Regions from separate parts of the Homo sapiens genome. Here regions 2, 3 and 4 are each linked to region 1. Evidence: fine-mapped expression QTL. A gene starts in region 1. Each other region holds a variant in brackets. All regions are shown on one strand. Distances are from middle to middle. Region 1 holds the start of DNAH1 (dynein axonemal heavy chain 1). Region 2 overlaps PHF7 (PHD finger protein 7). Region 3 has its middle 6.4 kb from the start of SFMBT1. Region 4 holds the start of GLYCTK (glycerate kinase).

Region 1 (8,103 bases):
CAGAGAAGTTAGGTGACCTGCCCAAGGTCACAGAGCCAGCAAGAGCCACAGTTGAAATTTGAACCCAAGTTCTTCTTTCTCCCCACTCAGATCACCTGGGAGCCCTATTGGCTTGAGCCAGAGGAAGCTTCTGGTTGGATTCACTGACACTCAACCCCACTTGACTCAACCAGTAGCCAAGCACTTGGCTGAAGAGACACAGATGAATAGGGGTATTCCAACCTCACAGCAGATACTACTATTATTGCCAATTTACAGCTGAGGAAACTAGGGCCCAGGAAAGTAAAGAAACTTGCAAAGATCACACAACCAAACACTTGGCAGAACCAGAATGGAAACTGAGGTCTTCACTTCTGGCTGACCCAAAGATCCATGTTCTAGCATCACAACAGTGGTTCTCCAACCGGGTGCTGAGATTCTGCAAAGTGGGTGCCTGTGGGGAGCCACATAAGCAGGAGGGCTTCTATGCCACTCACCCGATTCAACAAGGATCCTGCACCTTTATCCATTTCACACCCCGGGGTTCTGCATAAGCAGACAAATGGATCTGCGACTTTAAGGGATTTGGGAAGTATCTGCCCTTGGGGCGACCAGGCAAACAACACCATGAATGGTTATTGCTCCCCCAGGCTTGGGGTTCTCTCCACCGTTTTGAAGCATTCACCCGATGCAAACTGCCCTCCACAACTGTGTCTTTCCCCTCCAGTGTACCTCTCCCTGTATTACATGTGCACATCTGTTTTTCCTGTCAGCTGTGTAGGCATTTTCAAGTAACGCTGATCTCTGGAAACTTGGCACCTAGCACCTAGCATGAGGCTGGCATGGGCTTGGCACACAGCTGGTGCCTAGAAAGTACTTGCTGAATGATTGTGTGAACAAATGAACTAATGGATGGGCAAGGTGGAGAAAGGAATGAAGTTGACCTCTGTAACAACTCTGGTAGGGATCTGGAGAAGGATTGGGTAGCTGATGGGACTGCCACGTGCTCAGCATGGGGATGGGGCCCAAAAACTGGTCTGGCAAGTACAGGACTTCACTGCAAGGCTGTTTGAAGTGCACCTCCAGGCCGGGCGCAGTGGCTCACGCCTGTAATCCAAACACTTGGGCCCAGGCGGGCGGATCACCCGAGGTCAGGAGTTTAAGACCAGCTTGGTCAACAGGGTGAAACCCCGTCTCTACAAAAACACAAAAATTAGCCGGCATGATGGCGGGTGCGTATAATCCCAGCTATTCAGGAGGCTGAGGCTGGAGAATCGCTTGAACCCGGGAGGTGGAGGTTGCAGTGAGCCGAGATCGCGCCATTGCACTCCAGCCTGGGCGACAGAGCGAGACTCCGTCTCAAAAATAATAAAATAAAGTGCACCTCCCTTCTTTCCCCCTGGCCAAGGCTCAGCAACCAGACTCCTGGGAGACCCCATTCCCCACCCTCGTCCACTCGCCCTCCGCGCCTTTTCGAGGTCCCGCTGCCCGCGCTGGCCCCGCAACCCCTCCGCCTCACCGACGTACCGGTTCCACCGAGCAGTGCGGGGATGCATCAGCCCCGTCTCTAGGGAGGGACGCTAGGCCGTTGCTAAGGGGCGGGGCCATCCGGCACCGCAGGGCGGGAGCTTCCGTCCGCGAACCTCCCCAGCCTGAACCCTTACCTACCCACCAACTCCAGGTCTCGGTTACTTCCGCCCAGGACAGTGGGACTGGGATGTTCCAGCATATGCCCCGATCGGCAGGATTAGGGCCGACCAGGGAGCGTCACTCTTCTAGGCTCCATTACCCACCCATCTTCCCTCCTGTGCCCTTTTAGAGTAAGCAGCGAAACAGCTAAATGCAGCGTGAGAACTTTGATTAAATCCTGATTTAAATACATATACATATGTAAATAATTTGGGGAGGAATAATTGAAGAAATTTACGAACTGGAAGTTGGCATTTAAGCCACAGCTGCGGGACAGCTGGTCAGGGCACTGAGGAAAAGGTGGGTTCTGGTTCTCCTGGGGCTTGGCTCACAAAGCCACACCCACCCATTGCACGGTGACTCCACTCAGGCCGCCGCTTCCGCTGGGCAGCGGATGCGCCCGACACCCCTCGGCTCGGGCGCCCACCCTCTGATGCCCCTCATCTGCTCTCAGCACCTGGCATGGGTTCAGGTTTTGATCTTCCTGCCCTATTCTGAATATTGAATTATTGTTAATTTTCTTAGATGTGATAATGCTACTGTGGTTGTATCAGACTGTCCTTAGTTGACGTGGCCTGAAGTGTTTGAAGAAACACGTCAGAATGTCCGCTACAATTTCCTTTCAAATGGTTCAGCAAAAATTATACATATAGGTAAGCATAGCTAGATAAAAAGACAAAGAGGAGATAAAGCAAAAGTGCTGCAATATAACAATTAGGGAATCTGAAGGTCACAGATGTCCATGTACTAGTCTTCCAATTTTTTCTGTAAGGGAAAGAAGTGGTTTACAAACCAAAAGAACCAAAAGAAAAACATCACCCCATCTGTACCTGAGAACCCCTGCCCACAGCCTTCTCAAAACTGGCCCCATTTCACAGATGGGGAAACAGACTTGCTGAGACGGTTAGTACTAGGGGAGGTCATAGGCCCTGATGTTGAATTTTACTTGGCATTTTAGTCGTGCTGGCTTGGTGCCAGGCCTGTTGCTGGGCACTAAGTGTCTGGAACTGAACTGGACCCTATCCCCACCATAAAGTGTATTGAGTGGGAAAGATGGAGAGGCCAGGCCATGAGGAACCTAGAGGCAGGGTGTAATCTATGCCTGGAGACAGTGGTTCAGCCCTTGCACAGGCTTCTGCTTCCTCTGTCTAGAACCTGTCTCCATCCACTCCTGCATCTGGCGGACTCCTACTCACCCTTCAAGACCTGATGGTGGTGCAACCTTTCCTGAATCCAAACTGTGGTTTTATTTTTCTTGTTGGCATTCACACAGGTACTCAGTGATCACTGCAGAAGGAAGAAAGGACTGTGAGGGGAACTGGAGGCAAGGTGTCCACAGCTCTTAGAAGGGACAAGGACTCCATAGCCCTGTTTAGGGCAGTCTGGCTGCTCAATGGGTCTGCGTATAGGTTGGGTACCCCCCTTGGCCTGTAGAGAGGCACCTGCTTCCCTGCTTTTGCCTGGCACTTCCCACACTAGGTACAGCTGTCCAAAAAGCTGCAGCATCTATCCGGGTTGCCATGGCAACATCAGCCTATGGTGGGATGTCAGGGATGAGAGGGGCAGAATGCTAATCCTGGAAAGTTGCCAAGCAACACAGTGGGCTGGTGACATCACAGGGGCTGTGGCTGCTGGACAGATGGACAGGCCACAGCTGAAAGGGTCCACTCTCAGGAGGCCCAGCTCACAGAACCACTCACTGCTTACCATGTGATGGTCACTGCTGTTTCTCCCAACTGGAGAATGGACTTGAGGGGTGGGGGTCGGGGGTGCTGCTTTTACCAGCAGCCCTGCCAGCTCCACTTCGCCCCTCTTCAAGGGCGGGCTGTGGATATGACTGCCTCCCTCCTCCCTGGAAGGACACCGTGAGTCAGTCCCTGTTCTCCTGGGTCTCAGGGGCTACCCTCTAATGTGCTGTCTTCTCCCATGGCTGCGCAAGGGTTCAGGCTTTGGTCTTCCTGCCCTGTCCTGAAGGCCACCATACTTACCTTGCTCCCTGGGAAAGGAGCAGGGGGCTGAGCCATGACCCACTGGACTCCTGCCCCTCTTGTGATGGGAGGGCCATCTTTTGCCCTGAATAAGCTGGAAGAGAGGTCAGCCTTACCCTTGTTGAAATGGGAGGACTAGGTTTCTACAAGAGTTGGGGAGTCACTGCCCATCTCTTACTCAGATCCCCCTTGCTGAGGACTCTGGTGGCCTGGAAGCTGGGGGATTGGGGCAGATGGGCTGCTTAGGATGCCCTGGCCCAGGGCCATGCCTTTCCAGCATGGAGTCTGAGGTCATGGCAAGTCTGCACACCCCCTCCCCTGTGTCTCCTTGCTGGCTGAGATGGGAGCAATGCTTCACTGGCTGCAGAGATGAAAGCCCCTTGTGAATGGGCAGCAGAATGGGCCCTTCATGTGGCTGGCCAGCCAGAACGGAAGGTGACAGGCATCCAGACTGAGTGGCTGAGCTACCCGCTCCCCACCTGTCCCCAGCCTCCCTCTTGGGCCCCCAGGATCTTCCTCTGATTTTCTAGGCCTGGAGCTCTGAGCTATGCCACAAGAAAGTGAGTTGCAGGCATCGGGGGCGGGGGGTGTCAGAGAAGGGAATGGGTGAGGTCTACGATTCACTGCCTCCCCAGGCCTCCCCGACATAAGCCTCCCTGCCATTGCTCAGCTGCCCTCAGCAGTTCTGACCAGCATAATCATTTCTTTGATGAATAAAAATGGAGAAAATTTAATTCTCCTTTGATCCACATGATCACCTTGACAGACAAGACCTTGAAAGCCCAGAGCTCAAGCAAGGAGTAGAACAGAGTTTCTCCGGGGCTGGTGGACTGAAGACCACTGGCCCATGAACAGACAATCTTCATCCATCACAGCCCCCACCTAATCCCCTGCCCACCTTTACTCCTGTGCAGCCTCCCTGCCGGAGCCTCTTCCCTCTTTGTTTTTCTATGATCTTCCATGCCATCTTGGGCTACTTCTCAGGACACACTCCCTGAGTGCCTTGGCCAACAGAACACACACTCTCCTCAGGGCCCCAGAGGACCATGGTCAGTACCACTTGGTAGATGACTCACTCCCTACCATGTGATGGTCACTGCTGTTTCTCCCAACTGGAGGGTGGACTTGATGGATGGGGTCAGGGGGTGCTGGGGCAGAGGCACAGCTTTTCTCAGCAGCCCTGCCCATGCGTCAGTCCAGGAAAGACCCATAGAAATGACTGGAAGATAGAGCAACCCACATCGGGGCCATCACCTCAAAGATAGTGGCTGTTGACACCAGCCCAGTTGCACATGACCCCACATGATCCCACCCTCACCTCCTCTCCCCCAGCCTATTTTTCTCTGACCTCCATCTGAGGGTGCAGGATGCTGAGGCTCTGCGCTCCAGGAGCAGCGGCCCAAGGGGGGGATGCCTGTTGGTCCCCACCTTCCTGGGCCAAAGCGCCAGATGGCAGGCTCTGAGACAAAGACATCTTCCACAGGACATTTCCCAGGGGGGCTCCAGGAGCTGCACAGGAAACTGTTTATTATAATTAGGCTCTGAGCACCTCTGATTTTTCCTCAGTCCCAAGGAGTTTGGTGAGCGTCAGCTGGAGTAATATCTTGGCAGAGTGGGTGACTTCATCAACTTGGCCCTGTGACCCACCAAGTGCCCCCACTCCCACCTTCCAGGGAGCCTGGGTTTGCTGAGGCTTAGCTGAGCCCTCCCATCCACTCATCCCCCAAGGCTGGCCACTTTGGGGACCAGACTGCCAGCCTGACCTTTCATCCACCCCTAGAAAGGGCTCTGGACGGGGCAGGAGGCCTGGATTATTCTGATGACTCACCGGGCAAGTCCCTTCCTTTGTTAGGCCTCAGTTTTTCTTCTGCACAATGAGGAACAGAAACCTTACCCAGTGTCACGGTGGGGTCATCAGTACAGAGTGGTGTGAGGGACACCAAGACTTTTCCTGCCCCAAATACTTCCATTCCTGGCAAAAGCACTGCCCTTGCCAGACCTCCAGGAGCGAATGTGTAAAAAACTCCCAGCAGGTCAGTAAGGAAGGGTTTGTTCCAAAGAGATGGAATCCCTCACTCCCAAAGAGGTGGGGCAGCCCTCCTCCCCATCACCCCTTGCAAATGGCCTGCCTGCTTTGGCCTAGGGACATTCAAACAGCTAGGGTGGCAGTTAGAGCTGACAACTTCCTTGGCAATCTGCTCCCATACTCTGGGTCTGCAAACTGAGGTGGCAAGAAAGGAGGGGCCTCACCCAAAGTCATGGCAGAGTGGGACAGGAACCTGGGGCTGTCCTGCAGGATATAGGGAGCCACAAGGAAAAGACCATGAGACAAAGACCCATTGCCATGAGAATCCCACTTCCCTTTACAGGAGGAGGAGGGGCATCTACCTGGCCTCACACTCCTCTCACTCTTTGTCCCTCCTCCACTCCACCATCCTGAGGTGGGGCATCAGGGAGCTGGCAGGCAGGCCTACCTTTTGCGCCAGACACTGATAGTTGCTAGAGTCTCAGTTTCCCTGTTTATGGAAGAACTGGACTGTCCATCAACAGGGCCCCCAGCCATCCTCCAGCTGCCCCCTGTGGAGCACTCTCCTCCTGCAGAGTACCCACCCCACTGTCTTTCTCTTTCCCCAGTACTCCTGATAGGCCACTCAAGAGCCTGGCACTGGCGAGGCGTGGTGGCTCATGCCTGTAATCCCAGCACTTTGGGAGGCCGAGGTGGGCGGATCATTTGAGTTCGGGAGTTCAAGACCAGTGGGCAACATGGTGAAACCCTGTCTCTACTAAAAAATACAAAAATTAGGCTGGGCATGCTGGCTCACACTTGTAATCCCAGCACTTTGGGAGGCTGAGGCGGGCAGATCACGAGGTCAGGAGATCGAGACCATCCTGGCTAACACAGTAAAACCCCGTCTCTACTAAAAATACAAAAAATTAGCCAGGTGTGGTGGTGGGCGCCTGTAGTCCCAGCTACTCGGGAGGCTGAGGCAAGAGAATGGTGTGAACCTGGGAGGCGGAGCTTGCAGTGAGCCGAGATCGCACCACTGCACTCCAGCCTGGGCGACAGAACAAGATTCCGTCTCAAAAAACAAAACAAAACAAAACAAATACGAAAATTAGCCAGACGTGGTGGCACATCCCTGTAGTCCCAGCTACATGGGAGGCTGAGGCAGGAGAACTGCCTGAACCCAGGAGACAGAGGTTCCAGTGAGCCGAGATCGTGGCACTGTGCTCCAGCTTGGGTGACAGAGAGAGACTCCATCTCAAAAAAAAAAAAAAAAAGCGTGGCAATACTGGGTCTCCTGCCCACTTCCTCTGTATCCTTGGAGGCCTCTGGAAAATGTCATCTCCAAACCTAAGCAGTGACTCTGAAGTGTACAGTAAGGACTCAGGTCTCCATGTGGTCCAACAGATGCGGCCCTGAAAATATGACCCAAGATACCCCCGTCTGTTCTCTTCCCAACCTGGCCTCAGCCCTCCCTCCAAGCAGAGAGAAACTGGCCCTTGCAGACCCTGAAGGCAGGATTGGATGCTCCCAGTTTTCAGGTGAGCAGACTGAGGTCCTGGAGCAAAGCCTTGTTTTGCAGGCACACACACTGCTGGCCAGGCAGAGCTGGCTTGGCAGCTGGACCCTCGGTCCCTGCCCAGGGCCTTCCCTGCTATCCCTCCTGGTTCCCCAGCCCTCTTGGCTGGCTCTCAGAGAAGGCAGGTGGGCCTGAGGATGGGCAGGGCCTGCCCTGGGGAGGGAGCTTGGGCTGGGAAGCAGGTTGGGGGGGCGGTGGTCAGCAGGTGCAGGATAATGGGGCCACTGGGGGAGGCCCAGGGAGCAGGTGCTGCCCATGGAGGGGCTGAGGTTGCCATTGTATGCCCGGCTTTGGCGGGCCCAGAGCAGGAGGGGGGTCCCTGTGGGCCGTCAGGCTGCCCTGGCTCATGCTCACAGGTCTCGTCCTGATGCCTGGGCTCAGGCACATAGCCAGCCCCTCCCCTGGGTCCCAGCAACCCCACCAGGTTGCCATGACAACCAGCACTTTCATCCCTGTCCCTTTGTCTGGTCACGGTCCAGCTTTTGTGACCAGCCATAATTGCTGGGTGGAGGGAAGGGGGCCTTGCGTCAGGATACACGCAGCTGGGGTTGAGTTGTGAACTCAGGCAAAGGAGGGCTGGAGGGCAGGTTAAAGAAAACTGGAGATGCAAAAAGGCTGGGCTTTGCTGGCATTTCCCCCTGCAGTCTCCTCTCCTGGCTGCTGGCCACATGCTCAGAACTGAGTCTGCTGGCCCCAGAGTAAACTGTCTCATCTCTGGGCCTCATTTTCCCATCTGTGACTGCAACTGCAGATGACCCCTCTCCCCGGGTGCGCCATTGCCCTGGGAGGCAAAAAAGCATGAGCCAACCCAGAACTTAACTCCTTTGTGCAACTGAGGAAACTGAGGCATAGGGCAAAGCTAG
Region 2 (8,103 bases), 110 kb before region 1:
GAATGGGTTAAATATTGTGTTTTATATGAAAGCTCACAATTAAAAAATGTTCCTGTTACTTGCAGAGCTCTGACAAAATTTCCCTGGACGCCCGGATAAGCAAGGATAGCATTGGGTGGTCAAACCCAAGAGAAAGGAAATGAAGAAAAAGGGCATAATTGTGGGAAGCCCTAGGAGGACAGCTGTGCAGGAGCTCTAGGAGCAGCCAGCACTGGAGGCGGCGGCTCTGGGAGGCAGGTCTTCAGGAAAAGAAGTCCAGCTGATAGTGATCTGATGCCTGGTCTATGAGGAAAATTGCATTTTGAGACATTTTGTTGATCATTTGCAACATTTCAGAAGAATTAGCAATAGGTATATACCAAAAAAGAAGCAATTATTAATTTCAGAAAAAAACATTGTACAAAAGAGGAAAGGTAATCATAGTGTACTGCCTGGCTCAGTGGTAAACAGTATTTCTAGCATCATAATAATATAAACATTGAAAGTTAACAAAAATTGTGATACAATTATCTGAGGTGAACGAAAACGGGAAGATTATGTTTTTTTAATTTAATTTTGAGACAGCGTTTTGCTCTGTTACCCAGGCTGGAGAGCAGTGGCGCGATCTCAGCTAACTGCAACCTCCACCTCCCGGACTGAAACGATTCTCCTGCCTCAGCCTCCCAAGTATCTGGGATTATAGGCACCCACCACCGTGCCCGGTTAATTTTTGTATTTTTAGTAGAGATGGGGTTTCACCATGTTGGCAAGGCTGGTCTTGAACTCCTGACCTTAAGTCATCTGCCCGCCTCGGCCTCCCAAAGTGCTGGGATTACAGGTATGAGCCACTGCGCCCGGCCACCTTGCCTAATTTGAATGTCCTGGCATGCAAATTCATATTTAAACTCTGGACGGAAATGCTCGAACCACCGGGCAGTGAGGGTTTGACTGGGCTCACTCATGCTGTGGAGGTGTGCTGAAGCCCACACCAGTCAGGAGAGAATGGAGTCCCTTATGCCCCATGTATAAGCATGGTAGTCCTTGACCTGTTTGAGTCCAGGACCCCAAGCCTTGCAACAAGGGCCTATTCTCCACCCAGTGTGGACTGCTATGCTGGCTCACCTCCCTAATGAGAACCTGTGTACTTATTATTTGCACAATGATTGATGAAGATTCTCTACCTCTGTAATGCCAATTTCCGTATAAACAGGTTTCTTTCCCTCCAAAGAAACATGTCTATATTCTAAGCTAAAAGTTCTACATTAATTCCCTAAATTTTATGGATTAGGAGGGTGAGTTTTCTTACTCTCGTACTCTACCCCGTAGAATCTTTACTACCCAGACAAATTTCAGAATGAATTTATAAGGAGACACCAATGGAGAGAAAACCTTTATTTGCATAACAACAAACATGGGTGAAGTAAGAAGAGGCATATGAAAACAAGATTAAGGTGGAAGAATCCTTGGTGGGAGGAGAGGAGGAGAAAGCAGAGGCACTCTTGTAGCCATAAACGCATTTCCTTGTTGGCATCTGGACTGCTCCCTCCTCATGCTCCACTGAGACTTCTCTTTGCTTGGCTCATAGTCTCACTGCTGGCCCTGCTTCCTTGTCTCACAGTCCCAGAGTGCTCCCTCCCCAAACCCGATGGAGGAGCGCAGCTTCATACCCTATTGTGTGGGACAGCAGCTACTCAGAAGGTGTTACTTGGATTTTTTGCAGCTGTTAGTGATTCTGACACCCTTGGACCTCCAGGAGTAGCTCCTCCTGCCACGAGAGGACTCTGGCTTTTCTAATAAGGAAGGTTCTGGCCAATCAGTCCAAGAAAGGCCCGGATTCTCTTCCAAGGTGTTGTCTCTGCAGAAATGTTCCTCAGGGTGGAAGGTGCTGCTGCAGCAAGGGATGTCCCCTGAGTTTTCAGGTATGTAGTCTGGTGAGAGAAAGGCAGGAGAGGAAAACTCAAGCCTCTGCTTCTCCCAGGCACAGGTCCTTAAGCTCCTCTCTAGCTACTTTCCTTCCAAAGTCAAAGGCACCAACTATTAATCCCCCTCTGGTGGGATGTCTTCCTCCTTTCCCAGGCACCACAAGTCCCTACAGCCCCCTCCTTGCTCTGAGGCCGGCCCATCCCTCCAGCCTCACCTGTGGCTGCAGCAGGTGAACACTCCTCACACTCCCATTTCTTACTGTTAGATCTAAGAGAGGAGCAGTCCCTGTGGGTTCCGTGGGATCCGCATGTAGCACACAGAATGAGGCACCACCTCCTAGAGGAAGAGCCCAGGAAGGGTTGTGGAGACATACAGAACACCAACTGCCATGCTTGGATGTTTGCTATGGGCCAGGCATTTTTTACAGCACATTTTACCCAAGATGAATGTATGGCTCAGAGAGGATGAGTGCTGATCCCAGAAGCCTGCCATCAGTCGTAACCCCTTGAAAGGTAGATTAGGAAAGGAATTGGCTCTGAATGTCTCTCCACTGGGCACAAGGTGAAGCGGACCTTGCAGGGGAGACGTGTTCACGTGCACACAAGTGAGTCGGGCTGGTCAAGAATGAGACTTAGCAATCGTGTTTATCCTAAGGTCTGCATACAAGAGTGAATTTCTTACTTCTAATAACTGTGCCAAGGTCTAACTCTAAGATAGCACTGATGAGAGCTCTTTCTAGCCAGAAGCCTTCCCCTACCCTTCATCCTCAAAGCTGTCTCTGCCTTGTTCATACAGACAGATGGGGGCATCACAGTGCTGATAGCGCTGATATAAGTCTGAGAAAGCCCCTGGCTCGAGTTCCCAGGCAGCATCTCTGCAGTGGGAGAAGAAACAGTGAATAAGAACATAATGGGTTGGTGAAACTTTTGTCCATCAGGGAGGAGTTAGGAAGAGCCCAAGCTAAGCACAGCAAGAGTTCAGTAGGCTGCCTGAACACTTCCAACAAGGCTGGCCAAGTGGCCTGGCAGTGGGAGAGGGTTGAAGCAGGATGAATGGAACATGCATGCAGGTTCCTTAGTTCCACTCTGGAATCCAATAACTCAACCCCCCAGGGAATTCTGATTCCCCAAATGCCCTTTTCAGCAACAAGCACCCCATTCCCCCGCAAACTTCTTCCCCCTCCCTTCTGTTTTGATAATTGAAAAGCACTCCCTCCTCCCCTTCCTTCTTATCAGTGCCTCTGCTGCTCTCATTCTCTGAACTATCCTCTCACTCACCTCCTCTCTAGAAATCTAGGCAACCCACTCCCTGGCTCAGTTCCTGCTTTGGGGTTCCCACTACCTGTCTGGAATATGAATTCCCATTCTCAGCATTTCTTGAGGAAACTCTTTTCGATTGTTACACTGTGGACATTTGAAGAAATGCTTTGCTGATGTGTGGGCATATTTCTGTAAGAGAAACAGGGAAGAGCTCTGTGTTTGTAAAAACCCTTTGACTACCTTCTTTCTCCTCCCACCCTCACCCCTACAAAGAGGATGTTGCTAAGAGAGTTTGAGGGTACAGGAAAAGGAGTTTGGGTGGGCTAGGGTGAGGGCTGCAAATCCAGGTGTCAGACCTGGGACCAAAATACTTTCAAGAGAATTCCCAGGAGTGCCTCAGCTGTCATCTCTGACCATGGGGCTCGGCAGTACTGAGTAGGGGTCAGCCACCTGGATACATGTTTCCCTTTTCTTTCATCCCAGGAAGTGAGGCTGACATAGAGGCTTCTCAGCTCATTCTGGGATGAGCCCATTTGCTCTAGCAATGCTGAAGATTTTGCTTATTCTAAATCTTATCATGTGTGAGGTCCTATAGGCCAGGAATGACCACAGACTGGACTGACTTTCCTCTAACTGCCTGAAACCAGCCCTCAATACAGGCCTCCAGCATGGAGCACCAAAGCTGAGGCACACCTGAGCATTCCCAGGGTTCTCTGGTTCCAGGCAGAGAACTAGGGCAATGGTGGAAGGGACCCAGGGCGGAAAAAGCCCCACCTGTATGCACTTGCGGTGGTAGATGGCTTGACTACAACACGGGCTCTGGATGTTCTCAACACTCTGTTGGGATAAGTCTTCACAACATAAGATGCAGCTTTCCTCCCCCACATGCCCATGTTGGATGTTCTGTGTTGGGCGATGTTTGTCACAAAATGATCTGTGGCAGGTAAACAGACTTGGTTTCTGGTTTGTCATTGATGTAGTTTCCCAATGGCCCGCTCTAGGAGGGGCAGCCAGCCACCCAGGCTGGTGCCCAGTGAACCTCCACACATGGGGAAGAGGAGAGGCAGAGTGAAGAACTGCCACATGCCTTCTCACGGCTGCTCACCTACTGAGCAAAGTTCCCAGGACTGTCTCCATAGCCTCTCGTTCCTGAAAGCCCCACTTAGTGCTGAGCAGCTGTCTAAGAACCCCAGCTGTTTGTAATTTAAGGAGGGGTCAGGAAGCAAGAAGAACCCCCTGTGAAATCTCCAAGTCAAGACACTGTTTCTTATTACTGAATGGAGGGACAGATTCACTGGTGAATCAAAACAGGCCTGCTTGTGAGAACTGGACTCTGATTTCATTAGTGGCTGAATAATAAGTTGCAAAAAGGAAGCCAGACTTTTCCCTTCCCTCACTCACTTGTACTCTCCAAAAAATTGTGAAAGGCAACCCCTTTCTTGGCCACAAGGCAGATGGAAGTTTCTGAGGCACTGATCCTTCTGGCAGTTGATAGCAGCTCCCTTTTTCTTGCACACAAAGCAGATCTGCAAATGAGTTCCCAGACAGTGCTCAGGACCCCAAGAAATGCAAACACACACAGTGTAGCACATCTTTCTATTAAATGGAAGTTTTGTGAAATAATAGCCATTCCCTATCTTCAGTGGTCCTGAATGCTCTGGGGCACCCGGAAGCTGAGCTTCAAGCAGCACTGAGTTCTTTCCTATTTTCTCAAGATGTTTCTCCCTCTTCTCACTTAGGACACCCATACCCCAGAGGAATATGGGACTTAAGGACTAGTTGGAAAATCCA[A/T]GAGTCCTTTGACATCTAAACTAGGAAGTAGGGAAGAGAACAGAAACAGGAATGATGGGTGAGGTATGAAAAGAGGCCTACCCCAAGGTCCTCATTTCAAGAGATTCTAACCTTCCTAGAAGCCCGGGCTGCCTCCTTTTTGATGTCTTCAGGCAGAAATCCATGGAAGCCTCTGTTGGACTGGCCCCTCTGAGGCAGCTTACTAGATAAGATCTGCGGGGGCAGTAGAACCAGGCTGTTAACAATGATGATCAGTGAAACAGTGCAGTGAGGTGAGGAGAAGGACAGGGTAAGAGAGCTAAAGAATAGAGCTTGGGCCGGGTGTGGTGGCTCATGCCTGTAATCCCGGCACTTTGGGAGGCCGAGGCGGGCGGATCACGAGGTCAGGAGATGGAGACCATCCTGGCTAACACGGTGAAACCCCATCTCTACTAAAAATACAAAAAAATTAGCCGGGTGTGGTGGCACGCACCTGTAGTCCCAGCTACTCAGGAGGCTGAGGCAGGAGAATGGCGTGAACCCGAGAGGGTGGAGCTTGCAGTGAGCCGAGATCGTGCCACTGCACTCCAGCCTGGGCCACAGAACAAGACTCTGTCTCAAAAAAGAAAAAAAAAAAGAACAGAGCTTGGTGGAATATATATGCATTGACAGGGTAATTTATTTAATGAAGGCTTACATGGCACCAACCATGTGTTGAATACTCTAAGTGGTTTCAAATATTAACTCATTGAGTCCTCCCAACAGCCCTAGGAGGTAGGTACTATTATTGTCCTCATTTTATAGGAGAGATGATGCGACCTGCTCAAGGCCACAGAACTCTGGAACCTGGACTCTTACTTTTGCTCTAGGCTGCCTCTCACTTACTGAGGGCTGCTATTGTGTGCTGGGACTTTGGGGGAAACATTTCCTTTGTATTTACTCATTTTATGCTTACAATCCTTGGCCAGGCACGGTGGCTCACACCTGTAATCCTAGCACTTTGGGAAGCCGAGGAGGGCTGACCATCTGAGGTCAGGAGTTCGAGACCAGCCTGGCCAACATGGTGAAACCCTGTCTCTACTAAAAATACAAAAACTAGGGCATGGTGGTGCGCGCCTGTAATCCCAGCTACTCGGGAGGCTGAGGCAGGAGAATCGCTTGAACCCGGGAGGCGGAGGTTGAAGTGAGCCAAGATCAGGCCACTGCACTCTAGCCTGGGCGACAGAGCAAGACTCCGTCTCAAAAAAAAAAAAAAAAATTCCTGTAATGGCAGATGCTATTATGATGCTCATCTTACAGAGGAGGCCGCTGAGGTGCAGTGTGGCAAGTGACACTGCCTCCCAGGGTTATAGGACAAGGAGGAGCAGAGCTGGCTATTCACACCCAGGCCCATGGAATCCCCATTCTTACCCTTCCTGCTGCATCACCTCTTAGTACAGAGAAAATACTCTTCTCAGAGTAATACAGGAAGAAAAACAGGGTTTTAATATCTCTTGATTGTTGTTGTTCTGTATTATGGGGGAAGGAATTGAACTTTTGAAACACATATTTTAAAACTAATTATCTCAGGGCTTTGGGATGAGTGATTTGTTTTCTTCATATTTTTAAGTATCATTCATGTTTTCTGCAATAAGCATGTATTGATTTAATAAATTAGCTACTAAAAAGAAAAAACTATATCTATATGTTCTATACAGAAAGATTTCCAAAATATATATGATGGAAAAAAGCCAAGATACAAAGCACTCTGTATAATGTTTAATTTTTATGTAAAAAATGTATATGCTTGTAAATACATCAAAATTATAACTAAGCCCTGACACCTGATAGGACTTACAAGAAAGGAAAATCACAGACCAATCTTTCTCATGAGCACAGATATAAAAATCAAAACAGATGCAAACTGAATCCAGCACCATATAAAAAGGACAATACATCATGACCAAGTAGAGTTTATACCAAGAATGCAAGACTAGTTTAACATTAGAGCATTTAGTTGATGTAACAAACTACATTAACAAAATTAAAGAGAAAAATCAAGATAATCTCAATAAATACAGGAAAAGTGAGAAAATTCAACACCCATTCATGATACTCTGGGCAAACTATATATGAATAAAAGGGATCTTCAACCTGATAAAAACATCTATGAAAAAAACCTAGAGCTAACATACTTTAATAGTGAAAAACTAGATGCTGTCCCCTGATGTTGGGAACAAGACAAGGATAACAACTCACACCACTTCTATTCAATGTTAGGTTAAAGGTCCTAGCCAATACAACAAGGCAAGAAGAAATAAAAGGCAAAGATTGAGAGAAAGAAGTAGAACTGTCTTTATTCACACATGACATGGTTATGTGCATAGGGAATCCTGTAACAAGGCATTTACAACAAAATAAAAAAACAACTAATCAAACTCAATTTAACAAGATTACAGGATACAAATCAATATACAAAAATAAAATGCATTTCTATATACCAGCAATAAACTTAAAAATGAAATAAAAATACTATTTACAATAGCATAACCACAGAATATTTAGGAATACATTTAACAAAAGATGTACAAGACTTTGTCACCAAAACAACAAAACATTGCTGAGATATATTTTAAAAGACCCAAATAAGTGGAAAAATATACCATGTCCATGGATTGGAAGGTTCAATATTTTTTGTCAATTCTTCCCAAATTGACCTATAAATTCAATGCAATCCCAATCACAATCCCAGTAGACTTTTTTTTTAAAGAAAAATTGACAAGCTTAATATAAACTTTATAAAGAAAGGACCTGATAGTCAAAACAATCTTGGAAAAGATTGTAGAACTTAACAATACTGAATTTCAATATACTATAAAGCCACAATAATCAAGACAGTGGGGACTTGTGTAAGAATAGATACATAGATCAATGACATAAATAGATTATCCAGATCCACAGATATATGGTCAATTGATTTTGACAAAGGCACCAAGGCAATTCTATGGGTAGGTAAAGATTTCTTGCAACACACAAAAAGCACTGACCATAAAAGAAAAAAATGGATAAACTGGGCTCCATTACAATTACAAACTTGTTCTTTGAAAGACACCATTAAGAAAATGAAAAGGCAAGCCAAAGACTAGGAAGAAAATAGTCTCAATACATATATTTGAAAAAGAATTTGTATCTG
Region 3 (8,103 bases), 740 kb before region 1:
GGCCAGATGAACAGCCTTCTTCACAAACCTCCTGCCCTGGCTTCTCCAAAAGGGCCATGAGGGTCATGAAGAATGCTCTTGCCTGCGCTGGATGCCATGTTGAAAATAAGCTATCACCCAGGTTTCACCCTAGAGAGGTCAATTCCAAGGCCTGGGGGTCAGGTAGGGTTGAGGGGCTATCACTTTATAGATATGTGTCTTTTTGTACTTCAACTATACTTCAGTAGTATAGAAAAACAGAAACATTTTCAATCATATTCATTTCATTAAAATACTATTAATATTTTAATATCATAATTGTCTTTAATATCATTTAATATAATAACATGATTTAATATAATATTTTATGAGGGGCAAAATGATTATACTTCTTTGGCAAACAAAATAATTTAAAAATAGTATTTATCTCCTCTTTACTTCTTCTTTTTAACATTTCTATATTTTGTGTTTTACAATATATGTAATGTTTTATTAGACTAGTATAAATATATTAAATAATATGATTTAAGTATTTTGGAAGGCATACATTCATGTAGGTACAATATTTTGAAGGCCAGTACAAAAGGGAACTCTTGAATCTCCATCCCCTGGGCATTCTATATGATTGAAATAATATGATTTACCTTGCAATAAAGGAGTAGTTTAACATTAAAGAAAAAAAGAGGCCGGGTGCAGTGGCTCACACCTGTAATCTCAGCACTTTGGGATGCTGAAGTGGGCAGATCACCTGAGGTCAGGAGTTCAAGACCAACCCGGCCAACATGGTGAAACCCCATCTCTACTAAAAATACAAAAATTAGCCAGGCGTGGTAATGACAGGCACACGCCTATAATCCTAGTTACTCGGGAGGCTGAAGCAGGGGAATCACTTGAAACCGAGAGGTGGAGGTTGCAGTGAGCAGAGACTGCGCCACTGCACTCCAGCCTGGGCGACAGAGCGAAACTCCAACTCAAAAAAAAAAAAAAAAAAAAGAAAAAAAAGAAAGAAAGAAAAAGGAAAAAGAAAAGGAATAATCTGATACATGTAGAAACATGGATGAATCTCAGAAACAAACAGGACGCCTGACACAGCAGGTCACACTTGTAAACTCAGCACTTTGGGAGGCGGAGGTGGTAGAATCACTTGAGACTAGAGTTCAAGGCCAGCTTGGGCAACATGGTGAGACCCCATTTCTATGAAAAATAAGAAAAGATGTAGTGATACATGCCTGTAGTCCCAGCTACTCAGGAGGCTGAGGCAGGAGGATCACTTGAAGCCAAGAGTTAGAGGCTGCAGTGCACAATTATTGCACCAATGAAGTGAGACCCTGTCTCAAAACAAAAAGGTAGACAGGGACTGGGGCTCACGCCTGTAATGCAAGCACTTTGAGAGGCTGAGATAGGTGGATCGCTTGAGGTCAGTAGTTCAAAACCAGCCTGGCCAACATGAGAAACCCTGTCTCTACTGAAAACACACACACACACACACACACACACACACACACACACACACAAATTAGCTGAGTGCTGTGACTCACACCTGTAATCACAGCTACTCGGGAGGCTGAGGCAGGAGAACTGCTTGAACTGGGAGGCAGTGGCTGCAGTGAGCTGAGATGGCACCACTGCATTCCAGCCTGGACGACAGAGTGAGACACCGTCTCGAAAACAACAACAACAACAACAACAACAACAACAACAACAAAGAAAAAAGCAACCAGACAGGATCGCTACTTGGAGGAGCTGAACAAAAAATAATAATAAAAAACAGACAGAGAGTATTGCTCTATGATGAAATTTTTTTCTTGTCTTTTCTTGTCTTTTCTTTCTTTATTCTTTTCTTTTTTTTTCTTTTTTTCTTTTTCTTTTTTTTTTTTTTTGAGTCAAAGTCTCACTCTGTCACCCAGGCTAGAGTGCTGTGGCACAATCACAGCTCACTGCAGTCTTGACCTCCAGGCTCAAGTGATCCTCGCAGCTTAGCCTCCAGAGTAGCTAGGACTACAGGCTTGGGCCACCACATCTGGCTAATTTTTAAATTTTCTGTAGAGATGGGGTCTTGCTATGTTGCCCAGGCTGGTCTCGAATTCCTGGCCTCAATCAATCCTCCCCCCTCGGCCTCCTAAAGTGCTGGGTTTACAGGCATGAGCCACTGTGCCCGGCCTATGATGAAGTTTATAAAAACAGGCAAAAGTAATCTTGAAACTAGAAATCAGATCAGTGTTTGCCTATGGGTGAGGGGAGTCATTAGAAGGCTCTGTGTTGGCCAGGAGCGGTGGCTCACGCCTGTAATCCTAGCACTTTGGGAGGCCGAGGCTGGCAAATCACTTGAGATCAGGAGTTCGAGACCAGCCTGGCCAACATGGTGAAACCCCGTCTACTAAAAATACAAAAATTAGCCGGGCATTGTGGCACGTGCCTGTGATCCCAGCTACCCAGGAGGCTGAGGCAGAAGAACTGCTTGAACCTGGGAGGCGGAGGTTGCAGTGAGCCGAGATTACAACACTGCACTCCAACCTGGGTGACAGAGAGAGACTCCCTTAAAAAAAAAAAAGAAGTCTCTGTGTCTTCGTGGTGGTGGTTACATGGGCTGCACCTCTGTGAGCACTCAGAGAACTCTACACTTATATAATAGGTATATGTATATATATATATATATATATATATTTTTTTTTTTTTTTTTTTTTTTTTTTTTTTGAGACAGAGTCTTGTTCTATCGCCCAGGCTGGAGGCCAGTGGGGTGATCTTGGCTCACTGCAACCTCCATCTCCTGGGTTCAAGGGATTCTCATGGCTCAGCCTCCCGAGTAGCTGGGATTACAGGCGTGTACCACCACACCTGGCTAATTTTTGTATTTTTAGTAGAGATGAGGTTTCACAATGTTGGCCAGGCTGGTCTCAAACTCCCAACCTCATGTGATCTGCCCACCTCAGCCTCCCAAAGTGTTGGGATTATAGGCGTGAACCACCGCACACAGCCCAAAATGGGTATATTTTATTGTATGCAAATTATACCTAAAAAAAAAAAGTATTGTAAAAAAATCTTGGCCACACTCATGCCTGTAATCCTAGCACTTTGGGAGGCCAATGCGGGGCAGATCACTTGAGCTTAGGAGTTTGAGACCAGCCTAGGCAACATAGTGAGACCCCCATCTCTAAAAAAATACGAAAATTAGCCAGGCATGGTGGCACGTACCTGTAGTCTCAGCTACTTGGGAGTCTGAGGTGGAGGGATCACTAGAGCCTGGGAGATCAAGGCTGCAGTGAGCCATGATTGTGCCACTGCACTCCAGCCTGGGTGACAGAGCAAGAGCCTGTCTCACAAAAAAAGCAACAAAACAAAATAAAACAACAACAACAACAGCAAAGCGCCATCTGGGCCACATTTGACACAGGGCCTACCAGTTTGTGTCCTCTGTCCCAGTCACTGTATACATTCCTCATACAATTTTTTTTTCTTTTTCTTAGACAAGGTCTGGCTCTATTGCCCAGGCTGGAGTGCAGTGGCATCATCTCAGCTCACTGCAACCTCCACCTCCCAGGTTCAAGCCATCCTCCTACCTCAGCCTCCCAAGTAGCTGGGACTACAGGTGTGCACCACCACACCTGGCTAATTTTTGTATTCTTTGTAGAGGTGGGGTTTCACCATGTCGCCCAGGCTGGTTTCAAACTCATGAGCTCAAGTGATCCACAGAGGGAGACAGAGCGAGACTCCGTCTCAAAAAAAAAAAAAAAAAAAAAAAAGACACTCCAACCTCCAACCCAAAGAACTGCTCCCTCTTTTTTCCGGTATTGCTGAGCGTCCTTGGTCACTTATTTGGTGCCTGTGACCTCTTATTAGCGGATAAGAAGTTGAAGGTGCAAAATAATTTAAGAAAAATGCATGGCTCAATAACATAAAATTGGAACACTGTGCCCATTAATATATTTTCTCCAAGAGAAGCGGTCTTTGGGGATGAATG[G/C]GGACATAATCCTGGGCTTGTGGCACTCAAGGATAGAAAACGGGGTCAAGAGGGCCAGTGCCTGTTCTGTGGTAAGCAACTGAGGAAAAGCAAGCTAAGTGCTTTAGGAAGACAGAGAAAGAAGGGGAGCAATCTTGGGAGGCCTCCTGGAGGAGATGGCTTTGAGGTCAGGACAACTATTTCTCATCATTCTGTTGTGCTTTACAGTTTGCAAAGAATGTTTATACACATTTTGTTCTTGGATTCCTATGACCCAGCAAAGAAGCTGATTTCCTCCCCATTTTACAAAGATGAGGAAACTGAGCCCAGAGTGGTGAAGGGTCCCATAGAAGGTCTCATAGAGAAGCAGTGACTAACTCTGAACTTGACTCCAGCTGTCTGCCTCCACACCCATTGTTTTTTCCCTGACAACACAGCGTAGGTGAGAAGGACACCTGGTGGAGCAGGGTTTGCAGGAGCCAAGACATGGAGGGAAGCAGGGCAGGTGTTACAGAGAATGTGGAGTCATGGTCTGTGCTCCCGAGGCAGCAGGGCCAGCATAGTCAGTTGGACCTCAGTGAAGAATGGCATGGGGTGAGCAGTGACTCTACAGTGGGGATCACCTGATTGCTTGGGTAATTAGCCACAGGGAGTCATTATGTGACTGGCCTCATTTGGATTGACTGAAGGAAGCTGGCTGGTCAGGTCAGTGGCAATGGAGGGCCGCTGATCACTGACAGCAGGCCTGGCTGGCTTGTGGAATTTCATTCAGTTCTTCATGGGTTGAAAACAGCATGATGTCCTGGCCAAGGGTTCTGCCAGTCCCCAGGGTCCAGGCCTGGCCCTCAGGTTCTCATCCAGTACAAGGCCCCAGGTTGATGCCCACCTGCAGAAAACAGGCCTGCTTCATGGGCAGGCAAGGCCTCAGGGCATAGGGGGTTCATATAGAATGGTTGAACACTGACCCCTTGGTCAATGATGACAGAGGGTTACAACCCCTAACCCATGAAGCCAGCAGGAAGTGGAGACTAAGTTGGGAATGCCCAGGATGCCTCCTGGGTGTGCCAGCCTCTGGTCTTGGATGCTGCCAAATGACCCACTAGCCACCCTCTTGTCTTCCCACTGCCTCTTGGGGAAAGGGCTGACCTCATGGTTATGGAGACAGGCATGTCTTTGTGCTCAAGGGGACTGATGTCCATCTGTGGGATTACAGGGGGGACAGAACCCAAATAAATGACAAACAAATGCAGGTATAAATTAGAAATATCACCACTGGGGAGAGAGAGAACCTGTTCAGATGGGGTGGGCAGGGAAAGCCTCTCTGAGGAGACCATCTTGTTAAGCAGATACTGGAACAATAAGGTGTCACCTATGTAAAGGTGGGTGCAGGAAGTGGGATGGGGAGTGTGCCAGTGGGAAGGACAGTGACATACCCATGAAATGGAAAGGAGACAGGTGCAGCTAAAATACAGCAAGCAAGGCAGGTGAGTAGGACAGCTGAATGGGACAGGTGAAGGTGGGCCAGGCCAGTCTTTTTTTTTTTTTTGAGACACAGTTTCGCTCTTGTCACCCAGGCTGGTGTGCAATGGCACGATCTTGGCTCATTGCAACCTCCGCCCCCCCCGGCTTCAAGCAATTCTCCTGCCTCAGCCTCCCATGTAGCTGGGGTTACAGGCGCGCACCACCACGCCCAGCTAATTTTTTGTATTTTTAGTAGAGATGGGGTTTTGCCATGTTGGCCAGGCTGGTCTTGAACTCCTGATCTCGTGATCTGCCCACCTCAGCCTCCCAAAGTGTTGGGATTACAGGTATCAGCTACTGCGCCAGGCCAGGGCCAGTCCTTTTTTTTTTTTTTTTTGAGACGGGGGTCTCACCCTGTCGCCCAGCCTGGAGCGCAATGGCGCCATCTCAGCTCACTGCAACCTCTGCCTCCCAGGTTCAAGTGATTCTCCTGCCTCAGCCTCCCGAGTAGCTGGGATTACAGGTGTGTGCTACCACACCCGGCTAATTTTTTGTATCTTTAGTAGAGATGGGGTTTTGCCATGTTGACCAGGCTAGTCTCGAACTCCTGACCTCATGATCCGCCCACCTTGGGCTCCCAAACTTTTGGGCTTACAGGCTTGAGCCACCGCACCTGGCCCTGGTGCCTTATAGGCCAAAGTGAGGCTTTTGGACTTCTGCAAAGTGCAATAGAGAACCTTGAAAGGCTTTCAACTGGGGTGAGTCATGACCAGAAGTCAGTTTTCCATAAGTTACCCCTCGTTCCGTGCGCCTCTGGGGCTGCATCTTCGGTCAACAATCCCCAACTCGAATTTCCCAGTAGCGTGGTTGAGAAGCTGGCATGCCAGGTTTGTGGCTAAGTTTTGCTTCTCTTTAAGGATGACCTGGAAGCTCTCAGTTTGCTCTTTGTCCGTAGGGAATGTTACGGCCTGTCCTAAAGGATGTTGCAAGAGTTAAAGGAGATTCTGTCCAACTGCACATGTGCATACCCACACCCACATCTACACAGTGTCTGACACAAGTCAGATGTGCAGACAGTTTTAAACTGTTCCTTGAGTTCTCTGTTCTTCTTCCTTAGGGGTCATGAAGGTGAGCACTGGAGAAAGGCAAGAGAGTTTTACAATATTTGAATAAATTGAAAGATAGGACCGGACGTGGTGGCCAGCGCTTTGGGAGGCTGAGGCGGGTGGATCACTTGAGCCCAGGAGTTCAAGACCAGCCTGGGCAACATGGCAAAATCCTGTCTCTACAAAAGATACAAAAATTAGCTGAGCATGGTGGTGCACACCTGTAGTCCCAGCTACTCGGGGCTGAGGCGGGAGGACTGCTTGAGCCTGGGAGGTAGAGGCTGCAGTGAGCCATGATAGCACCATTGCACTGCAGCCTGGGTGACCGAGTGAGACCCTCTCTCAAAAAAAATTTTAAAAAGGCTGGGTGCGGTGGCTCACACCTGTAATCCCAGCACTTTGGGAGGCTGAGGCGGGTGGATCATAAGGTCAGGAGTTCGAGACCAGACTGACCAACATGGTGAAACCCCGTCTCTACTAAAAATACAAAAATTAGCCGGGTGTGGTAGCGTGCGCCTGTAATCCCAGCTACTGAGGAGGCTGAGGCTGGAGAATCGCTTGCACCCAGGAGGCAGAGGTTGCAGTGAGCCAAGATTGCACCACTGCACTCCAGCCTGGGTGACAGAGCGAGACTCTGTCTCAAAAAAATCATTAACAATAGCTAACATTTACAAAACTTTTACTATGTCCTAGGCGTTGAGCTTGTGAGGCAGCTGTTAATCTTTTTTTTTTTTTTTTTTTTGAGTTGGAGTCTTGCTGTCACCCAGGCTGGAGTGCAGTGGCACGATCTTGGCTCACTGCAAGCTCCGTCTCCCGGGTTCACGCCATTCTCCTGCCTCAGCCTCCCGAGTAGCTGGGACTACAAGCGCCCACCACTACACCTGGCTAATTTTTTTGTATTTTTAGTAGAGACAGAGTTTCACCATGTTAGCCAGGATGGGCTCGATCTCCTGACCTCGTAATCTGCCCACCTCGGCCTCCCAAAGTGCTGGGATTACAGGCGTGAGCCACTGCGCCAGGCCAGAGGCAGCTGTTACTCTTATCCTAATTTTACAGACCAAGACCTGAAGGCCCAGAGGGGATAGATAAGTTGCCAAGGTCACAGGGCTGGTTGTTGAACCTGGATGGTCCGTCCTCAAAGCCAGTCCTCTTAACCCTTATATGATTATCCTAGGATGTGTAGAGACACATAAACCAGTGTGGATATCAACTGATAATCTGAAAAAAGAAGACCTCATAAGGGCATGAGAGGGAATCAAGCCTTTTCATATGTTAGAACCTATTCCAAAGAACCAATATTTAGATTCATATGGTATTTGCTCAAACTGAGGTCTAAGGAAGGAAATGGAGAATTCAGAAATATATTAATCAAAATAGAAAGTCTAGCGTAAAAGTAGATTTTACTAAACAAAGGAATTTTTTTTTTTTTTGAGTTGGAGTCTCGCTTTGTCGCCCAGGCTGGAGTGCAGTGGCGCGATCTCAGCTCACTGCAAGCTCGGCCTCCCAGATTCACGCCATTCTCCTGCCTCAGCCTCCGGAGTAGCTGGGACTACAGGCGCCCGCCACCATGCCTGGCTAATTTTTTTGTATTTTTAGTAGAGACGGGGTTTCACTGTGTTA
Region 4 (8,103 bases), 28 kb after region 1:
GTGTGACAGGTGGGATGGGGGCAGGCAGCAGAGCTGAACCCCCACCTCTCAAGACAATGAGGGTATCAGGTAGAGGGGCTATCCCAACCCAGGGAACCAGGCAAGCAGGGGTGACAAGCCCACATTAGAAAAAGGGGGCTGGAAAGGTGGGGTTAGGGTGCCCCCCTGTGGATATGCAATATGTGTACAGTCACCACATCCTGGCCACCTGAGGTTGCCCCTGCCTTGGGGTACCCCAGGTCCCAGTAGGCACCGGAAGAACTAACTACTCCTTAAGAGACTAGAACAGGAGGCAGGGCAGGGGGCACACAATGGAAGATCAAGGAGAGGACTCCATGAGGTCTGAGGGCCTAGCCCCAGGTGACATTAGTACAGACAGCAGCAATAGCAGTGACATTTTCCAAGGACTCTACGGATGTGTCAGGCCCTGCATTATGTGCTCCCCATGCACCCTCTCACTGTCACCGAAAAGGTCAGCTCAGGGGGAGGACTCCACAGCTCAGGGGAGGCCAGACGACTAGCCCAAGGCAACCCAGGAGTCACCATCCAGGCTCCTCACCACCTCCCTTGCTCCTAACTTTACCCTGTGACCCCGGGGGCTCAGACCTGATCTCTCGAAGACCTGAGAGATCAGGTGGTGCACCCCCCACCAACAGTCTTGGGCCAATGTGGTACCACACCTGAGATCAGCACGAGCAGCAGGTCATCAGCTGTGAGTCCCTCAGCCAGTTGCTGGATGGCCAGTGCAGCCCGCAGCGCATCGCGGTCCGGGAGGTTGTCCTCCGCACCCTCGAATACCTGGACACGGCTATGTGGCTTCAGCAGCATCTCCCTGGGGAGGGAAAGGTCAGCACGCAAGAGATGGGGTGGACTCCTCTCCTCCCACCTGATCTCTCAACTTTACAGGTGATGGGGGCATGAACGAAGATGCCCACTGACATGCATCCTGGGGCCAGGCCAGATCCAGGAGAAATGGGAAGCGGGTGGGGAGGGGAGGCCCGATTCAGCCTGTGTCTGGGCCCAGGTTTCCCTCCAGATAGATAGAGGGAGGCAGGCCCCCATGGCTCCTTACTGCTTGCCGGCACGCTCCATGGCAGCACGGATCCCCTTGGGAACGCTGATCACGCCCTGCACAAGATGCTGGCCCAGTAGTTCCTCAGCTGCAGCTGCCATACCCAGCACAGCCTTGCCAAAGCCCACCAGGTAGAGGTTTTGCCTCAGCTGAAAGTTCCGGTCCCGCACCTTCAGCTGTCTGCCACCAGGGTCCAAGGATAGTGCCCGGTGCAGCATGGGGCCCGGCAGCACTGCACCTACAGCACTCTCAAACAGCTGCCTGGCCTGCTCTGCCAAGGCCATGCTGCTGGCCAGACGGGCCACTGAGCCCCGCCAGAGGAGTGGATGCAAGGGGGCTCGGGCCAAGCGGGGCAGGACCTGCAGGGCTGCAGCCATGCCCCACTGCTCTCAGCACTGCCTGGCACCCATGGCTGCCTAGAGGGAAAAAGCACAACTGAGGCCCTTGCAAGGCAAAAGACAGGAGGTCCCCCACGGCCGCCCCTCTGAGGGCTCAGGGCCAGTGGACCCCACAGCTGCTGCTACAAGAAGGAGCCATCTGATAGCCCCAGGAGACTTCCTGAAGCCTGCAGCTGCAGGATCTTACTCGTCCTTGGAGACCAGCCCTGCCACCCAGCCACGTCCTCCTCTTCTGCAGACCACATGCCGGCCCTCTGGATACTCTGCCTCAAGTCCAAAGTTCCTATTAGCTGGGCCCTCCTCCCAGGTCACCCCTTTGGCTGGGAGTTAATCATTGACAGAGGGAGTAATTTCTACCAGTGGGCTCCCATCCCACCCCTTTTCCACCCCCTGCACTTCTGCGCTGTTACCCTGGGGCAACGCCCCTTTCTGGCACTCCTTCCTTGCCTCTTTACCACCTCTGCTGCCAGGAAGCTGTTGATTGTCCCACCAACTGACCCTGAGCCCATTGACCTCCAGTCTTCTCTATTTCATTATCTCATGAGACTGGGATTAGGAGCCTGGGAAGTCAGGGTCTATAGGAGGCTGCAGGTTTATCAGGTCAAACCCAGAACACATCCTCAGGGCAAGCAATCTGAGGAATCTCAGTATGCAGGACCAGTTCAGCAAGAGGTTTAGGTTCAAATCAGGAGTGAGGGCAAAGTCTGGCTCATGGTGGAACCTTAGAAAAGTCCCCAGGCACCATGTGAGGCCATGTGCCATGAAGCCCAATTGCAGGACAGAAAAGGATGCCCTTCTACCCACACAGTTGGCCAGACCCAACCCTGCCAAGAACACGCCTTCTGGTTCCAAGATAACAAAAACAAGTCCTAGGTCACACCACCCACAGTGGTGAGAGCCCAAGGGCTGAAGTAGGCAAAGGCCAGGCTCCCATAACTGAGCCCATAGCCATTTTCCCCACTGGGCAGAGTAAAAGCTAAAGAAGCCTTGGGGCGAAGGTCAGGAAGCTGTAGAGGGGTATAGGAACAACAAAGACCCAAACAGCTCATCTGTACTACATATGTACTATTGCATCTACTTTAATAAATGCCTACCATAAATGTTGCAAGCTGACTTCATCAGCAAGTATGGACTGAGCAGGGTAAGGAGGCTGGGAATTGAGGTTCCAGCTCTACTATAGGCTTTCTGAGTGGCTGGGACACCTCCATTTCTCTCACTGGGCCTCATCCGCAAAATGAGACATGGGGTGAGATTAACACTACGCTCTTCCCTTAACAACCTCAGGCTCTCTGATACTGTCCACTGCAACACAGATCTCAAACACCGGTTTACCCCACACCCAAATATGGTGGTTACTTCTAGACTTTGACCATTTTGCTTGCCTAGTTCTCAGCTCTCCGGTAAGAAAAGACAGCCATGCCTGACTTCTGTTGTGAAAGGGAACACAGAGGGCATCGTCATGGGGATTCCGAAAATGGGTCCAGTTTTGGCCAGGGGGACCCCTGGAGCTTGCCCATTGGACTTGGAGCTAAAAGCATCTTAGCAACTAAGACAGCCGGTCTTTATAGCCTGGATGAAATTTGTATCTATTTCCCAGATGGACAAGAGCCTAGAAGATCCCAGCCTTGCCACTGGGTATGAGCACAGGACAGGGGGACGCTCAATGCTAAGGCTGCCAGAGAAAATACAGGACTTCCGGTTAAATTTGAATTTCAAATAAACAAGTAATTTTTAAAGTATAAGTATGTGCATACAATGTTTAGGACTTAACAATTATTCGTCGTTTATCTTAACTCAAATTTAACTGGACGTGGCCCGGCGCAGTGGCTCACGCCTGTAATCCCAGCACTTTGGAAGGCTGAGGCGGGCGCATCACCTGAGGTCAGGAGTTCGAGACCAGCCTGACCAACGTGGTGAAACCCCGTCTCTTCTAAAAATACAAAAATTAGCCGGGTGTGGTGGGCGCCCGTAATCCCAGCTACTCGGGAGACTGAGGCATGAGAATCATTTGAACAGGGGAGGCGGAGGTTGCAGTGAGCCGAGATCGCGCCACTGCACTCCAGCCTGGGTGACAGAGTGAGATTCTAACTCAAAAAAAATGTAACTGGACGCTTTGCATTTTTATTTGCTAAGTCCTCCAATTCTATCCAAGACACGGTCTCTCCGAAACTCCGGGAGGCTCCAGAGCAAAACAACGGAAATAGGAAGACTACCGGTCTTGACTCCTCCCCGCCATCAAAGAAGGCTGGTACCATTTCCGGCTTTCCCTAGACAGTAGGGGGCCGGAAGTGACGTCATCCTAAGGTAGGGCCTTAGCGAGGGAAATGGCTGCCGCGTAATGCCCGGTGATGCGAGAAAGAAGGGCCTGCTGCCACCAGGACCCGTCATCGCCCAGCCCAGGGACCGCTTCTGAAGGCCATGCGAGCCCTGGCGGCGCAGACTTACCAGCCCACAGCTCCGGCCGCGGTGCCCAGCGCTGGAGAACGGAAGTACTAGGGGGTGGGCGGAGCGGAAGCCGGAAGTGTGGG[T/G]GGGTGGAGCGGCGCAGGCGGGTGCGAGCTCTGGCTGAAGCCGGTGTCCGGGAGGGGAGAGTTTAGCATATTGGCTCTTTGCTGGCCACTGACAGACCTGGAAGGAGTCACCTTCAGTCCTCATTTTTTAAATCTCTACATTGAGGGTAATAATCCCCGCCTCACCGATTGCCGATTTTTTTTTTGAGACGGGGTCTCATTCTGTCGCCCAGACTGGAGTGCAGAGTCGCGGTTTCGGCCCAATGCAACCTCCGCCTCCCGGATTCAAGCGATTCTCATGCCTCAGCCTCCCGAGTAGCTGGGATTACAGGCATGTGCCACCACTCCGGGCTAATTTTTGTATTTTTTAGTAGAGACGGGCTTTCGCCATGTTGCCCAGGCTGGTCTCGAACGCCTAACCTCAAGCGATCCACCCACCTCAGCCTCCGAAAGTGATGGGATTACAGACTTCAGCCGCCGCACCCGGCCTCTCCCTTCCTTTATCCTGTACGGTCAGTCAGCAGATGCACCCTGAGTGTCAGGCACTGACTGGGCTGAGCAAACGAACTGAGAATCACTACTTCCCCACAACTCACCCCTTCTGGAGCCAGATTAAGTAATTCCCGCTCCTCTCCATGGCTTTTATTCCACAACTTATTATTGTTCTTCCCTCTCCCACCATGGGCCACCAAATACAGCTCTGGCTTAGCAAGAGTTCCATTCTGCGATCCTCAAGCACATAAGCGGCATGTAAACGCTAATGACTCTGGGCCTACCTCGCTGTCCCTACTCTCATCCGGGGCCTACCCTGTGTTGGCTGGATGCCTTCCCACATTCATAAGATGAGTCCTGATCAGACTCCAAAAATACAAAACAGTTCACTGTTTTTACTGATGTTTTCTTAGGGAGATAGAGGAGAGAGTTGCATCACAAATCACACACTTGATTTCCTAACAATTTTATTGAAACATGTTTCTTGGCAGGGCGCAGTGTTTCACGCCTGTAATCCCAACATTGGGGAGGCCAAGGTGGGCGGATCGCTTGAGCCTAGGAATGCGAGACCAGCCTGGGAACATGGCGAAACTTATCTCTACCAAAAAAAAAAGAGCCAGGTGTGGTGGCATGCTCCTGTAGTCCCAGCTACTCAGGAGGCTGAGATGGGAGGATCACCTGAGCCTGGGAGGTAGAGGCTGCAGTGAACCTTGATCACGCCACTGCACTCCAACCTGGGCCCCTGTCTCAAAAAAAAACCAACAAACAAAAACACATTTCTTTCTCTTGGTTTTGAGGTGGAGTCTTGCTCTGTCACCCAGGCTGGACTGCAATGGCACAGTCTCAGCTCACGGCCACTGCACTGCAGCCTGGGCACGATGTCGGCTCACTGCAACCTCCGCCTCCCAGGTTCAAGCAATTCTCCTGCCTCAGCCTCCCGAATAGCTGGGACTACAGGCGCCCGCCACCACGTCCAGCTAATTTTTGTATTTTTAGTAGAGACAGAGTTTCACCATGTTGGCCAGGCTGGTCTCGAACTCCTGACCTTGTGATCCACCGCCCTTGGCCTCCCAAAGTGCAGGGATTACAGGCGTATAAACAATTACAGGCGCCCGGCCTATATAAACAACCTTCATCTTTCCCCATGCTGGAGAACACTAATTGCCACTGCTTGGTGTCTGTGTTTCCCTGGATGGCTGCCCTCACACTTTATGCTTGAATAAATTCTTTTAACTGGATATCGAACCTTTTGATGATTTTTAGGTTGACATTAGAAATGTGTTTTTGGGACAGGTGCAGTGGCTCATGCCTGCAATCCCAGTACTTTGGGAGGCTGAGGCAGGTGGGATCATTTGAGGTCAGGAGTTCGAGACTGGCCTAACCAATATGGTGAAACCCCATCTCTACTAAAAAATACAAAAATTAGCTGGGCATGGGCCGGGCACAGTGGCTCACACCTGTAATCCTAGCACTTTGGGAGGCTGAGGCAGGTGGATCACCTGAGGTCAGGAGTTCAAGACCAGCCTGGCCAACATGGCGAAACCCCGTCTCTACTAAAAATACAAAAATTAGCTAGGCATGGTGGTGTGTGCCTGTAATCCCAGCTACTGGTGGGGCTGAGGCAGGAGGATTGCTTGAACCTGGGAGGTTGCAGTGAACCGAGATTGCGTGACTGCCCTCCAGCCTGGGTGACAAAGCGAGACTCCGTCTCAAAAAAAAAAAAAAAAAAGATTGTTTATATAGGCAAAAACAGGAGTGCTGACCAGAATTACAACATTTTCCAAAAAAAGGCTAACATAAATACAAGATTTGGTTGGCTACTATTGATTATACTGGAAGGAGTTTGCTTAACATTCTATTGTAAAGAGACAACAATCACAAGGGTCTCTATCTCCCACATCATCTAGTCTAAGTCTGAATGAAGAATAGGGAGCCTGGTTAATGTATAACATTTCAATACAAAGATCAGGAAGCAGCAGTCATGCATCAGAGAAGAAAAAAAAAAAGCAATGCCTGCTCAGTTTCCAGGGCTTCACTTTTCTCCTTCACATTATAAATTGGGAATGTCCTAAAATTTTATTTTCTTTTCACACCCCCTACCTGCTCCCTTTGGCAGTTGCTACATCTCTCCTTAGGTCTCCAAACCATGCTGTGCTCTTGTCATGAACCTTTCCCTTCCTCTGGCCCCCACTTCCAGCTCTCTCCCTGGATTTTTCTTTTTCTTATATATACATATATTTTTATTTGAGACAGGATCTCACTCTGTCACCCAGGTTGGAGTTCAGTGCCATCATCTTGGATTATTGCAACCTCCACCTCCGAGGCTCAAGTGATCCTCCCACTTCAGTCTCCCAAGTAGCTGGGACCACAGACGTGCACCACCACACCCAGCTAATTTTTTGTATTTTTTGTAGAGAAGTGGTTTTGCCATGTTGGCCAGGCTGGTCTCAAACTTCTGCGCTCAAACCATCTTCCTGCCTCTGTCTCCCAAAGTGCTGGGATTACAGGTGTGAGCCACCACACCCGTCCTTCTCCCTGGATTTTTCCTTTTAAAATATGAGACTTTGTATTCCTTCTCCTAAATGATTTCCCACCACATCATCAAAACAAAGGCATCCGTAGGTGGAATTGCCCTCTTTAATGTGGGAGAGGTTGTAAATACTGAAAATTTTATTGTTTTTTCTTGGTTATAGTCAGCTATATTCCTTCCATGCATTTATTCCTTCCTCAGACATAATTCAAGACATTTCCTGAGTGCCTTCTGTGTGGGCCGAATGCTGTAGCTGCTGGGATAGGTAAGAAGTGGTACTTTTAATTTTAATTTTTTTTTGTTTTTAGGAGACAAAGTCTCACACTGTCGCCCAGGCTGGAGGACAGTGGTGATTACAGCTCACTATAGCCTCAACCTCCTGGGTTGTAGCGATCCTCCTGCCTCAGCCTCTCAAGTAGCTGGGACTACAGGTGCACACCACCATGCCTGGCTAATTTTTTGTGGAGACAGGGTCTTGCTTTGTTGCCCAAGCTGGTCTCAAACTCCTGGGCTCAAGCAGTTCTCCTGCCCCAGCCTCTGAAAGTGCTGGGACTATAGGTGTAAGCCACTGTGCCCAGCCTGGGCTTGCAGGGTTACTCCGTGGGAGGGAAGGTCAGCTGTGTTGGAGGCAGGGTAAAGTGGAGCTGTGTCCTATGTAAGGGCTGTACAACACCTTAAAACTGGGAGGCCGAGGTGAGCGGATCACTTGAGGTCAGGAGTTTGAGACCAGCCTGGCCAACATGGCAAAACCCCGTTTCTACTAAAAATACAACAACAACAACAACAACAACAACAACAACAAATTAGCCGGATGTGGTGTCACGCACCTATAATTCCAGCTACTCGGAAGGCTGAGGTGGGAGAATTGCTTGAACCCAGGAGGTAGAGGTTGCAGTGAGCTGAGATCACACCACTGCACTCCAGCCTGGGTGACAGAGTGAGACTCTGTCTCAAAAAAAAAAAAAAAAAAATTAAAAAAAATAAAACATCTTAAAGCTATTTTTCTTGGAAGGAGGAGTTGGGGAGAGTAAAACAAAACACTAGGAAGCAGTTCAGCATGACTCTAGGCAAGCACTGATGAGAGGCCACTAAAGCTGTGTATGT

The links. PIP is the estimated chance that this variant, and not a neighbour inherited with it, causes the effect.
Region 2: its variant is fine-mapped to the expression of DNAH1 in whole blood (INTERVAL, PIP 0.95).
Region 3: its variant is fine-mapped to the expression of DNAH1 in blood mononuclear cells (TOPMed, PIP 0.98).
Region 4: its variant is fine-mapped to the expression of DNAH1 in whole blood (TOPMed, PIP above 0.99). The same link has a PIP of 0.9 or more in tibial nerve.

What each region holds. Positions count from the first base shown.
Region 1 is chr3:52,311,307-52,319,409 of GRCh38, reverse strand. It overlaps DNAH1 (dynein axonemal heavy chain 1), which reads right to left and starts at 3,091. Exons shown (of 78, transcript NM_015512.5): 1 at 2,865-3,091. RefSeq lists a silencer at 1,471-1,700 and enhancers at 1,639-2,577, 5,394-5,593, 7,874-8,103.
Region 2 is chr3:52,416,895-52,424,997 of GRCh38, reverse strand. PHF7 (PHD finger protein 7) reads right to left here. Exons shown (of 11, transcript NM_016483.7): 5 at 5,064-5,165; 6 at 4,563-4,687; 7 at 3,936-4,095; 8 at 3,244-3,350; 9 at 2,660-2,776; 10 at 2,117-2,238; 11 at 1,357-1,907. The coding sequence ends at 1,681. Among named protein-coding and RNA genes, the nearest start is that of PHF7, 10 kb to the right of the region's middle. The variant A/T (reference allele first, on the strand shown) is at 4,953.
Region 3 is chr3:53,048,433-53,056,535 of GRCh38, reverse strand. No RefSeq gene overlaps it. Among named protein-coding and RNA genes, the nearest start is that of SFMBT1, 6.4 kb to the right of the region's middle. The variant G/C (reference allele first, on the strand shown) is at 3,938.
Region 4 is chr3:52,283,689-52,291,791 of GRCh38, reverse strand. GLYCTK (glycerate kinase) reads right to left here and starts at 3,964. Exons shown (of 5, transcript NM_145262.4): 1 at 3,916-3,964; 2 at 1,073-1,488; 3 at 681-832; 4 at 1-45. The coding sequence starts at 1,449. GLYCTK-AS1 (GLYCTK antisense RNA 1) reads left to right here and starts at 2,059. Exons shown (of 1, transcript NR_046719.1): 1 at 2,059-3,212. It overlaps LOC107986086 (a long non-coding RNA gene), which reads left to right and starts at 3,772. Exons shown (of 3, transcript XR_001740699.2): 1 at 3,772-3,959; 2 at 7,201-7,264. RefSeq lists enhancers at 893-1,393, 4,197-4,306, 3,133-4,332, 3,638-4,379. The variant T/G (reference allele first, on the strand shown) is at 3,999.